3 separate regions of the Homo sapiens genome follow, and regions 2 and 3 are each linked to region 1. Evidence: fine-mapped expression QTL. A gene starts in region 1. Each other region holds a variant in brackets. All regions are shown on one strand. Distances are between the middles of the regions. Region 1 holds the start of LINC01659 (long intergenic non-protein coding RNA 1659). Region 2 has its middle 21 kb from the start of LINC01659. Region 3 has its middle 7.8 kb from the start of LINC02557.

Region 1 (4,174 bases):
TGCAGCCTGGATGTGATGCCCACATCTCTGGGCCAGGCACAGCTCTCCACTGTCGGCGGCTGGTGGGATTAGATGTGACCAAGGCCGCTCCCGGGCCGGCTCTACTCTGTGGGGGGCAGGTGCGGCTCTGGGGGTCCTGTTGGGCCTGAGCACGTCCCGATAACCTGGCTGCTGCCCACTGCCCAAGCGCCAGAGCACTCGGCCACCAATGAGAGCTGTGCTTCCCTGGTCCTGGGTTAAAAATATCCCCGTAAGTGACAAGACTTTGAGAATTTCGTCTCTCCAGTCACTCACATGGGGGGCGAGGACAGCTCTTGGCTCCGCGTCTCGCCCGGCTGCATCTGATGGCTCCCTGGGCTGAAGCTGCATCTCATGAAACAGACGAGAAGTCATTCACAGCCCGACAGCACAGGCACAGAAATTTGCTGTTTTATACCAAGTTGGGCGGCCTGTCATCTAGAAGCTTCTGTCCTGACCTCCTCAGCGAAGAGGAAGTCATGGAACCAGCTGCTGAGCCTCCTGACCTCGGCCTGGCCTCTCCTGGCAGCTGTGGGCCCCAGGATGAAAGCGGGCACCACGTCACTCACGAGACAGAAGCTGTCGTTCTCAGAGCCTCCCAGGTGAGTGGCCGGGCGCCTACCTGAAGCTGGACGAGCCCACAGTGGCTGAGGCCAGTGGGGACCCAAGGGGCCGGTCCGGCCTTCCCGGACCACCAAGGAAGGTGGGCGCTGCTTCCCTCGCAGTGCAGATGGTCTCGGCCGTCACTCTGCTGTCCCTCTCCTGGCTGTGAGCTCAGCTTCAGTGTCCCCACCTGTGAAATGGGGAGACCCCCAATCCTTCTGGGCGGGTGCCTTGCCTCTGCCCTCGCATGAGTCTCCCCTTTCTGAGCTGGGATTCCATCTCTCCTGGGAATCAGGTGCTGCCTGGCTGAGAACCCGGTAGCCAGGCACAATCACGCCGTCACCACCCCAGCCCTCAACCAGACCCTGCCTGCTCGCCGCGCTCGGCCGCCATCTTCCTGTGGACGCCACTTACCCTCCGGCGTCGCCATCGGCTGCAAATTGCCTTGTTTTTCATCTTTGGCAGGGCTCAAAATTTGATCATGAAAGGGAATTTTCTTTTTTCTTTCTTAATTAGTACTTGGTAATATCACCAAGCTGTGAGTTTATGGCTTTGTAGATCTTGTGTGTTTGACACTAATTACTCACAAAGGCTTTTAAAGCTGCATTTCAACTCTGCAACCACCATGCCAGTAATTAAGCTAGAGGAAGCGGCAACAGATTTCATTTTTCACAGACACCCTTCCCACCTGTGCTCCCGCTCCGTGTGGCCGCAGCCCCCGTGGCCCTGTGGAAACCCAGCAGCTCCTTGCGGCTCCGGCCCTGGAGGCCTGAGGTGGCCTTGCCTCCAGGAGCCCGGGCTCAGCCGTCACAGCCGGGCAGGTACAATCAGGACGAGCTCCCTGTGAGACTGGGGACCCAGGCCCAGTCCCAACCCAGGTGAAGGTCCCTTCCTTCTGCCCCAGAGACGACTAACGAGCAGCTCCCCTGGCTGCCCCAGAGCCCCCCACAGGGGCCGTGGCTTCTGACCCTTCAGACTCAGCTGTTCCCAGGGGCCCTGCTTCTGCCCCGCCCGCCCCCACGGCTGCACTCAAGCCTGCGCTGTGCACACCGAGGCCAGCTGAGTACCGGATAGGACCTGGGCTGAGGCTGCCCAGCTCACAGGGAAGCAGAAGCCGAGAGACCAAGAAGAAAACATCCCCCAACTGGCTGACAGTCGCCCTCCTCGACCCCAGATGCCACTAAGAACAACGCAAAGTTCTGGCGCGCAGGGAGGGAAGTCCGTGTTGACTTGGGGGCGGGTCTGCAGCAGGAAGGCTGGGCACACCCTCCACTGGCTGCTCACTAACTCCCCTGCTGGCAGAACCTTCCGCTGCACAAGCAGAGGAGAAAGGAAGGCGTGGAAGAGAGCAGGTGGCCCACGGGCTGGGAGGGGCAGGGAGAGGAAAGGCGGCAAGGTTCCCAGCAAAAGAGAAGACGCCACTCCGAGAACCCCGGGAGGTATAAGGGAACCCTGTTTAGTAACGCTGCATGTGCAACAGATAACACGTAGTTCACGTGCACAGATGTGTGCAAACATCTATGATGTAACCGAGCGGGGCTGTGCAGAGCAACTGTTACAGTCTGAACTGTGTCCCCCAAATTTAGATACTAACCTAATCCCCATGTGACTGTATTTGGAAATAGGACCTTTAAGGAGGGAAGTCAAGTCTGATGAAGGTCATAAGGGTGGGTCCTGATCCAGCAGGGGCACCAGAGCTCTCCAAGTGCACAGGAGAAAGGCCACACAGGAATACAAGGGGCGGCCGTCCACAAGCCGGGAGGAGAGTCCTCCCCAGGGGCCAACTCCGGTGACCCTTGATCTCAGATTTCAGCCTCCAGAACTGTGTGAGACACACATCTGCGGTCTCAGCCCCCGCTGTGGGGCTCTGTGACGGCAGCCCCAGCCAGACCAGCAGAGTGGTGGACACGGCCAGGTCTTATTTTGGTGAACTAGCCCCTTGGCTCCACAGATCTCTGTAACGTGCTTATGTGGGAGGATGGTAGGGGCACGGCAGCCCCACCTAGGAAGCAAGGTCTCCACAACCATGGGTCATGTTAAACCAGCTCCTTCTCTGGAGGCTAAGGGCCTCACGTGGTCAACTGCAGCCCAAGGTCCTGAGCCCCCTGTCTGGTCCAACACCAGGTGCTTTGTCTCTCTTCTCCTTCGCACAGGTGGTCACCCTGCTGGACGCTGCCCCTTTCCCCACTGTCCTCACCCACCGAGACCAGGTCCTACCACAATAAAAGGACTCTGGTTAGGGCTTTATGGAGTCACCAGCCTTTCAGAGACACATGCTACAATACTTGAATGATTGCAGCTAAATTGATTACGATACCTTGGATTTGCTTCAGAATAATCCAGGAAGGGGGAAGAGGGTGGGATGGGCTCACAGGGACTTCTCGATGCTGTTTTCCATATTTTTATATATATGCTTAAAACTTTCCATGGCAAAAAGTGAAAATAAACACAAACAGAAACCAAACCAAAAGCTAAAAGATGACAACTCATCCTAACCAGGCCAGGGTGACCTCCTCTCAAAACCCAGGCTCTGGAAGGACATCTCGCTCTTACCCCCAGAAGGTGACATCCTTGGCCCCAGAGCCCCTGCCAGGGCTGCCCGGTCTTTACCCCTCTGCCCAAGGCCACACGCACAGGATGTCAACAGTATTTGTAGAATTAGCGAGGCAGCATGGGAAGGTGCGGTTCCATCTCCAGGCCCCCCGCCCTGGTCCTCCTCCCACTGGGTCTTAACTCCCCGAGGGGCCACAACGCTTCAATGCGTGAGGTGCCGTGTGCCTCTCCACCCAGGAAAGTGTGCACAAGCACACTCCGTGCTGCCTATAATTCTGGGAACGACAGGGGTCTATGAAGCCCACCCAAGTTCCTGGAATACAGACCCCTGCCCTGAGCTCGCAGCGGAACCCCCATGCTGCTGCTCCTCCTCACATGTGGATCTGGGACGTCATGCTGGGCAACTGAGACCAGGTCTGCCTTCATGTTGTAAACAACTAGAAAAATGAACAAAATACACACAGTAACTGTTCACAGACACTGGGCTGTCTAAAGACAGAGAAACAAATGAAGTGAACCTCTGAACACCCCTTGCTCTACCCAGTGGTCTCTTCCAGGCTTGGCGCCGTGGGGTACAGCTCAAGCTCAGCATGATGGTCCTGCTGAGAGGAAGGGAGGATCTGTGGAGGGCGGAGCTGTGCACAGAAGGCTTCTGGCAACCTGGAGAAAGGTCTCGCTGAGCTGCTGAGTAATACACTCTACGCACACAGCATGCAACTCCACAAGGCTGAACCAAGCACATCGGGGAGCTGTCAGGGAACAACTCCAGAGGTCACGCAGGACCGGGGACAGGCACATGCCGACCAGCCAGAGCAAGTGTTCTTGCTGAGCACCCAGGTCATCTGCTAGGAACCTCAGAAGGGTCATGTCTTAGTAGCAGAGTTAAACTAGCCCTGGAATAAAAGCAAATCCATACAAGCCCCAAGAGAGTGTGAAAACAGTTCTTGAAAGGATCAAGCTGACCCCAAAATAACTTAACTGCTTGCCAGAAAAAGCCCAA
Region 2 (4,174 bases), 22 kb before region 1:
CTGGCCTGGCCTGGGGCTCACCTGCCCCTCTGGAAGCAGAGAGGGCCTGCCCTGGAGGGCCGGGGACCTCTGCAGCACGTCCGTGGAACACGTGGGCCAGGGAGTGTGTGCCCGGCCCCCATTCCAGCTCTGCCACGTGAGCAGTGCTCACACGGTGCCTAGGGCTGAGGGGTCTTACTAAGCGCTGGTCCCACCATCCCGAGCCGAGCCCCATGGTGTCCCAGCGGGCACGGACAAGAGGCACGGAGTGAGGGAGGGGTGGAGGCTGACAAAGTGCTTGGAGAGCAGAGACAGCGCCTCTCTCCACACACCACCAACTGCAGGATGTGGTGGGGCTCGGAGGCCAAGGGGGAAGTGTGAGGGATTCCTGTCAAGAACAAGACCCCCTGCTGCTGAGGGTCCAAGAGAAACTCCATGAACGGGGAAACTCAAGGGGAGGAAGCTAGAGATGGAATGAAGGAAGCCCTGAATCCTGGCTCAAACAAGCAAAGCTGAAATAATGCAGTAAAATGAGAAGACACGCAGGAAATGGAAACGATGCTACTTCGAGATACTGGGAAGTTATGTGAATGCTGTTCATCTGTGGGGTGGTGTGAAGAGGTGGAGGCCACACCAGTGGACATCAAAACCAGAAACCAGTCAGAGAAGGACAACAGGAAAACTGTAAGTGCCTGGAAATCAAACAGCACACTTCTAAGTAATCCACGAGTCAAATGGGATGCCTCGAAGGAAATAAAAAAGAGAACAGAATGGAAACAAGAATACAGCATAATGAAATTTGCCAGACGCACCCAAGGCAGTGCTTAGAGGGAAACAGACAGCACTCAATGCCAGTATCAGGAAAGGAGAAAGATCTCAAATTGCTTCTCTAAATTCCTACTTCAAGAAACGCAGGGAGAAACAAGCCCGAAGCAGGAGGAGGAAATAATAAAAGTAGGAATGAATAGGAAAACAAAAGACAGTTATTAAAACCAAAAACTGGTTCTTTAAAAAATAGCAATAAGGCCGGCCAGGAGCAGGGGCTCACACCTGTAATCTTTGCACTTTGGGAGGCCAAGGTGAGAGGATCACTTGAGCCCTGGAGTTTGAGACCAGCCTGGACAACACAGTGAGACCCCATCTCTATAATCAATCAGCCAGGTGTGGTGGCATATACCTGTAGCCCCAGGTATGTGGGATCACGTGGGCCTAGGAGTTTGAGGCTGTAGTGAGCTATGATCACACCACTGCACTCCAGCCTGGGCAACAGAGTGAAACCCTGTCTCAAAAATTTGTTAAAAAGACCAGCAACAATAAATTGATAAACCCCTCGCAAAACTGACAAAGATTAAAAAGGGGGAACGCCTGTAATCCCAGCACTTTGGGAGGCCAAGGCAGGGCATCACGAGGTCAGGAGATCGAGACCATCCTGGCTAACACAGTGAAACCCCATCTCTACTAAAAATACAAAAAATTAGCTGGGTGTGGTGGTGGGTGCCTGTAGTCCCAGCTCCTTGGGAGGCTGAGGCAGGAGAATGGCATGAACCCAGGAGGCAGAGCTTGCAGTGAGCCGAGATCATGCCACTGTACTCCAGCCTGAGCAACACAGCAAGACTTCATCTCAAAAAAAAGAAAGGGGGGAGAGTGAAATGACCAATATCAGAAATGAAATGGAAATATTATAATAGATCCAGAAGCTATTAAAATAACAATAAAAAATACTACAACAAAACTTGATGCTCATAACGAACTGGACGGATTCGTCGAAAACCACATACTACCAAAACGTGCCAAGATAAAATAGCCTCGGTAGTCCTATAACCATTAAATAAATCGAGTTTGTTGTAATTAAAATGCTACTCAAAATCTCCAGTCCCAGATGGTTTCACTAGAAAGTTTTACCGAACATTAAATATGAATTAATACCAATTTTACACAATCCTTTTTCAGTTAACAAAAGACAGGGAAACACCTTTCCACTATTAACCTTGTACTGAAACCAACAAGGATGGTGCGCACACACAGAAAAATAAGTATCAGTCTCTCATGAACTTAGATGCAAAAATACTCAACAAGTACTAACAAATGGAATCCAGCAATCTACGAAAAAGAGTATCACACCCTGACCAAGTGGGATTCAGTTTAGGTGTACAACGAAGGCTAGTTCAAATTTGAAAATCAATCAATGTTATTCACCCTATCAACAGGCTAAAGGAAAACAATGATATGATCCTATTGACACAGGCAAAGCATTTGACAAAATTTAATCTCCATTCCTGACAAGAACTCTTGCAAAGCAGGAATCAAGGGAAAGTCCTCCGACTTGGTAAAAAGCACCATGAAGAACCCTCAGCTCACGCTGCTTCACGGAGGAGTCTGGCCGCCTTCCCTCATTCGGTCAGCGGAGAGCTGGCTTTCCCCACTCATCCTCAACCCAGCATGGGAGCTCCTCACGCCAGGGCATGCAGGTAAGAAAAGGAAAGCAGCAGCATAGGGATTGGAAAAGAACAGAACTGTCCCTACTCGCAAATGACATGATGGCCCACGTGGAAAACCCTAAGCAATCTGCAGAAAACTCCTAGAATGA[C/T]GTGACGGCCCACGTGGAAAACCCTAAGCAATCTGCAGAAAACTCCTAGAATGACGTGACAGCCCATGTAGAAAATCCTGAGCAATCTGCAGAAAACTCCTCGAACACTAAGTGAGTTCACGAAGGTTGCAGGAAATAAGATGAACATACAAAAATTAACCACATTTCTATAAAGCAATGGCAAACAAGTGAAAAACAAAATTAAAAGGCAATATAATTTACAGAACATCTTAAATACTTGGGTATAAATCTAACAAAAACTTGTATAGTGTCTGTTTGCAGAAAGTTAGGAAATACTGATGAAAGGAATCAAAAGAATGTTTGTATAAATAGATACAATGTTTATGAACTGGAAGACTTATAGTAAATCAATTTTTCCAAAATTGATCTTTGGTTTTAAGGTAATTGCTGTCTAAACCTCAGCATATATATATATATATATATATATATATATATTTTTTTTTTTTTTTTTTTTTTTTTTTTTTGGAAAGAGGGTCTTATTCTGTCACCCAGGCTGGAGTGCAGTGGTGTGGTCTTGGCTCACTGCAGCCTCAAGCAATCTTCCTGCCTCAACGTGCCAAGTAGCTGTAACTACAGGTGCGCACCACCACTCATGGCTGTGTTTTTTTCATAGAGATGGGGTCTCCCTGTGTTGCCCAGGCTGGTCTCCAACTCCTGGGCTCAAGCGATCCTTTTGCCTTGGCTTCCCCAAGTGTTGGGATTACCGGTGTGAGCCACCATGCCTGGCCAGCATCTTTTTTTTTTTTTTTTTTTTGGTAGAGAGACACAAGATTATTCTAAAATGTATATGGAAAGCCATTCCAAAAAAGAAGAGTAGGGGAATTGCCCTTCCTGATGTTGAGAACTGTACAGCTACAGCACAGCGTTATACAGCTCCTACATCAGACAGACATGGCTGGGGCAGCGCTGGAGGGGAGATGTGGAGACCAGCGGAACAGAACAGAGGAACTCGAAAGAGACCCACAGACGTGTCCAGGCCACTTTCTAACAGAGAATATTATGCCGTGACCAAGTGGGACTTAGTTTAGGTGTACGAGGCTAGCTTGGTATTTGAAAATCAATCAATGTAATCTGCTATATCAACAGGCTAAAGAATAAACAACATATGATCCTATTAATCGATACAGAAAAGTCACAAAAAAGTCACAAAGGTGCTTCAGTGGAGGAGGGGCAGTCTTGTCTTTGCTACAGCTGGAGCCGGAGCAGCTGGACACACTTAGTTAAAAAAAAATTTTTTTTTGACCGAAACCTCACATCTCATATAAAATTTAACTCAAACTGTATCATGAACTTACATGTAAAACACAGAATTATTTTAAAAAAGAAATCTTCAGGATCTGGATGAGGCAGAGCTCTGACACTCAACACCAAAGCACAATCCATAGAATAAAATTAAAATGGATAAATGGGCCTCGCCAAAATTTTAGGAAATTGCACAGTGGAAGAGCCTGTGAAGCAGACACAAGGACAAGCTACACAACAGGGCGCCAGCGTCTCCCTGCCCATCTCTCCTAGAACGCCACGGCCACAGAGGACCCCAGCACCTGGAGGGGCCAGTGCACAGAACCCGGAGGGGGGTGACTGCAG
Region 3 (4,174 bases), 88 kb before region 1:
GATCCCAGTGGAGACCTCCCCACAAGCCCCCGAATCCTGGGACACTGAAAGCCAGGCGCCTTTGAGGGTGGAGGGAGGCCACCCGCCTCCCCACCTGGCCAGAAATCACACGCCCCGCAGCCTGCCCTGGCTTGGTTCAGCAGGGCCCAGAATGTCCTGGTCTTTATCTGGTTCAGTTTTAAGTGCTTCCAACGGCAGCGAAGCTGTTCCACCACGGTCCCCAGGAAATTGGTCCATGTAGGACCGAGCCTTCCCGAGAATGAAGTCATCTGTGCCGTTTTTATTTTTTGTTGCCTTTCTCCTACAACGGGAGAGTCACTGGTCCTCTGCAGGTCCCTCCCCGCGGCAACGCACCCAGCCGCGGGGCCCGGCCGGGCTGGTGGGGGAAGGGGCGAGGAGCAGGGCCCCGGGGTGCACGGTCGCCCGACGCCCCCTGCCCGCGCCCCAGCCCGGCCCCCGCCCTCCGCGGCCTGAAGGTGAGCTCCCGGGGGAGACCCCCGCGCCCGGCACAGCCTGCTGGGCAAACAGTAACAGTAAATAACGCTCCCTTGTCAACGTAATAGAAACAGAAACGGTTACAATGTTTCTTTTTCTTTTTTTTGTTTTTTGTTTTTTCTTTTTTTTTTTTGAGATGGAGTCTCACTCTGTCGCCCAGGCTGGAGTGCAGTGGCGCGATCTCGGCTCACTGCAAGCTCTGCCTCCAGGGTTCACACCATTCTCCTGCCTCAGCCTCCCGAGTAGCTGGGACTACAGGCGCCCGCCACCATGCCCGGCTAATTTTTGTATTTTTAGTAGAGGCCGGGTTTCACTGTGTTAGCCAGGATGGTCTGGATTTCCTGACCTTGTAATCCACCCGCCTCGGCCTCCCAGAGTGCTGGGATGACAGGCGTGAGCCACCGCGCCCGGCGGTTACAATGTTTTTTAATAAGCACACCCCATCAATCTCCCTCCCGGGCCCTGGGCACCGGGGAGGAGGGGTAAGGGTGGGGGGCACCGGGGCTCGCTGCTTGGGGGGCCCAGGATACAGGCGGAGGACGCCCGGGAAAAGAGGGGAAAACACAGCAAGTGAGAGACGAGGGGGCTCGAGCGGCCAGGGTCAGGCGAGCTAGCGGAGCCGGAAAGCGGCCGCAGAGAGTAACATCGTTGCCATAGCGACGTGCCCGCGAGGAACAGCGGCCAAGGCGCCCGCACCGCCCGGCCCCTCCCACCAGCCCGTTGCCACGGAGACCGGGCCGGAGTGGCGCCGCGCTGTCTGCCGCGGCCTCCGGCGCCCCGACCTGCGCATTCGCAGCGGGACCTTGGGGGGCGCCGTGGGAGTGCCCTGGCGCCGCGCCGCGCCGGGGCCATCCGGACCCCTAGGCCTATTCCCGCCGCCTGCTCGGGTGGTGGTGGGGGGAGGGAAAAGACAAACTGTTCTTTGTTTGCCTTTGGAAAGCCGGCCTGCCTTTGTTCCGGGCGGGTTCGTTGGTTTCCAGGCGTTGAAGGCTGGGAGAGGAGGGGGTAGGGATCCCGGCCCAGCGGTCCCAGACGTTTTCGGAACTACAGACCCTGGGCTCAGCGCGGGGTCGCCGAGGGGACGCGGGCCACCAGCCCTATCCTCCGGAGCTCAGGCGCAGTCCAGGCTTCCCAGGCCCCGGGGCTGCCCTCCCGGAGCCTGACCTCCCCTGGGGGTGGGGGTGCTGCCCTGGGGCCCCCTTCCTGGGTTTCCTGGTCCTTCTGTCCACGTATCTCACTCCCCCATTGAACCGGCAAAGAGCACAAAGCAGAAAAGACATCCTTGCCGCCCCAGGCTCCCCCATCTAGCAGAAAACTCTGAAACAGTCCTCACCCCTCCCAAAGTTGAGAGAAACGTGGATGTTCCATAAACAAAACCCGCCCTCCAGCAGCATGTTTAAGTGGAGGCGACCTCGCGTGGGTGTGCGTGTGTGTATGTGTGCGTGTCTGCGTGCGCCGGGGACGCGCGATCATCTCTCAGGCTGTTTGTGGATAATTTTTTTCTCTAGATTTTGTTTGTTTTTAATAAGGATCAGAGGTCTGGGCTGTGGGGAAGGGGCAAGGGTCATCTCGGATGGCCAGGCCGGGAGGTACCAGGGGGACAGGTCTCCGGGCCTGGCCTGCCGAGCGAGGCGGGATCCGGAGCCGCCCCATCTGGCCCTACTCCCGGCAGTGGCTGGTGGGAGTCAGTGGGGACCGGCTCCGTGGGCTGCTCCTGGGGTATGGCCCCAGAGAGGAGCCAAGCCAAAGAATACGATTTCTCTCCCCTGCACAGGGCAGCTGTCATTTCCCCGGCCCCTGTCCTGGCCATAAGGGCCAAGAGAGAAGGCAAGCAGAGTGGCTCGGGTCTCTGGGGCTTTCTACACTGGAAAGGGAGGTTTTTGTTTTTTTGTACAAGGCAGACTTCAACTTTCAGCGAGCAGGCTGACCAGATGGGAATGTAGGGAGGGTGTGCGGGGAAAGGGGACCCCCCTGCTTCAAACTACCTCCCTGCCATCATTGCCTACCAGCCTGGGCCCCCACTGC[G/A]GCCCTGTGCTGGCTGAAGGGAGGGAGGGGCTGGGGCTGATGTTTCTTCTTTCCTACTCCCTCCTTCTTTCTAGATGTGAGAAAGGAACCCCGCCCTGTAGGGGAAGCTTGTCTGGTGTCCAGAAGACTTAGGGTCCATGGGCCGGGTGTGGTGGCTCAAGCCTGTAATCCCAGCACTTTGGGAGGCCGAGGAGGGCAGATCACGAGGTCAGGATATCGAGACCATCCTGGCTAACACGGTGAAACCCCGTCTCTACTAAAAAATACGAAAACTTAGCCGGGTTGCGGGGTGGCGGGCACCTATAGTCCCAGCTACTCGGGAGGCTGAGGCAGGAGAATCGCTTGAACCTGGGAGGCGGAGGTTGCAGTGAGCCGAGATCACGCCATTGCACTCCAACCTCGGCAACAAGAGTGAAACTCCAACCTCGGCAACAAGAGTGAAACTCCATCTCAAAAAAAAGAAAGACTTAGGGTCCACAGTGGCAGTCTGGGTGTTGTATTGCCATCTCTCCTTGAAGGAGAAGATGAACACTTGGTGGGAGGGCGCCTGGGAGCTGTTGCTGCAGTGTAGAGAAGCCCCATCTTGGCCCAGCGGGCAGCAGCCTGTGCTGAGAATGGGGACTCCAGGACCAGAGAGGCCTGGCAGTGGATCCTGGCTCTGCCAAAACCACTGCTTGTGCATCTGGACGACGGGGACAGCGCAGTGCCCCTGTCACAGATGGTGATGGCTCCTGGCGGTGGTGCACAGAAGCTCGTGGCATGGCATCTGGTGCACAGTAGGTGCTAGAACATGGAATCTGTCATTGGAGCTGGTGTGACCCAAGATGGCCACCTTGGGTCTCTGACACTCCGGGGCTGGCTGTGTCCCAGGACAGGTTCATCTTTGGTCAAGCCTCCAGGAAAAGAGCACTGGACTGGGGTCAGGAGAAGCAGAGGCCATGGGTTCTGTCACCAACCAACTGTGTAATCCGACACAAGTCCCTGAGCTGCTTTGAGCCTCAGTCTTCCCATCTTGCAAATGGGGATAATAATCACAACCACCACTGACTGTGAACTTACTCAGTGCCAGGCACTCCACCGAGGCCTGTACATTGCCTTATCTAATTCGACCCTCAAAGCAACCAAGTGAGGTAAAGACTAGATCCCAGTTTCACAGATGAAGGGACAGAGCCTCAGAGAAGTGAAGCCACATGCTGGGGACACACAGCTGGAAGGTGGTGCAGTCTCCATCACACACCCCTGAGAGCGAGTGTCCAGCTGCTGCTCCTGTCTCTGTTGTTCCCCCGCTCTTCCTGCTCACCTCCTGTACTTTTTGGTGGCTCAGGCCACAGCCCTCCCTTTGTATTTGAACCCTTGGATCCAGCCATTGTGGAATCTTCTGAGTCTGGTGGAGATCCAGCCCCCTCAGTGGGAGACATCCTCAGGGGTAGATGGGGGCTTCAGGAAAGCCAGGTGGGCCCCACATGGTCCCCACAGTCAACCCGGCAGCCCCCAGCCGATCTGCCATCCACTGAGTCTCCCCCTGCCGTTTACACCGAAGGGTTGGGGTTCCTAACCCACCCAGGTGGACGCGTGGCCTCCAGATGGTGCAGTTAATCCCGCTGGAAGCCGTACATCAGCGTGATTGTCCCAGCTTCCCTTCTCCTCCCCTCCT

The links. PIP is the estimated chance that this variant, and not a neighbour inherited with it, causes the effect.
Region 2: its variant is the best candidate, but not a certain one, in a credible set for the expression of LINC01659 in sun-exposed skin (GTEx, PIP 0.65).
Region 3: its variant is the best candidate, but not a certain one, in a credible set for the expression of LINC01659 in ileum (GTEx, PIP 0.54).

What each region holds. Positions count from the first base shown.
Region 1 is chr22:23,431,197-23,435,370 of GRCh38, reverse strand. LINC01659 (long intergenic non-protein coding RNA 1659) reads right to left here and starts at 1,807. Exons shown (of 3, transcript NR_110538.1): 1 at 1,310-1,807; 2 at 641-811; 3 at 300-547. RefSeq lists an enhancer at 3,286-4,131.
Region 2 is chr22:23,452,956-23,457,129 of GRCh38, reverse strand. No RefSeq gene overlaps it. Among named protein-coding and RNA genes, the nearest start is that of LINC01659, 21 kb to the right of the region's middle. The variant C/T (reference allele first, on the strand shown) is at 2,567.
Region 3 is chr22:23,519,013-23,523,186 of GRCh38, reverse strand. No RefSeq gene overlaps it. Among named protein-coding and RNA genes, the nearest start is that of LINC02557, 7.8 kb to the right of the region's middle. RefSeq lists enhancers at 1-133, 134-700 and a silencer at 1,046-1,405. The variant G/A (reference allele first, on the strand shown) is at 2,521.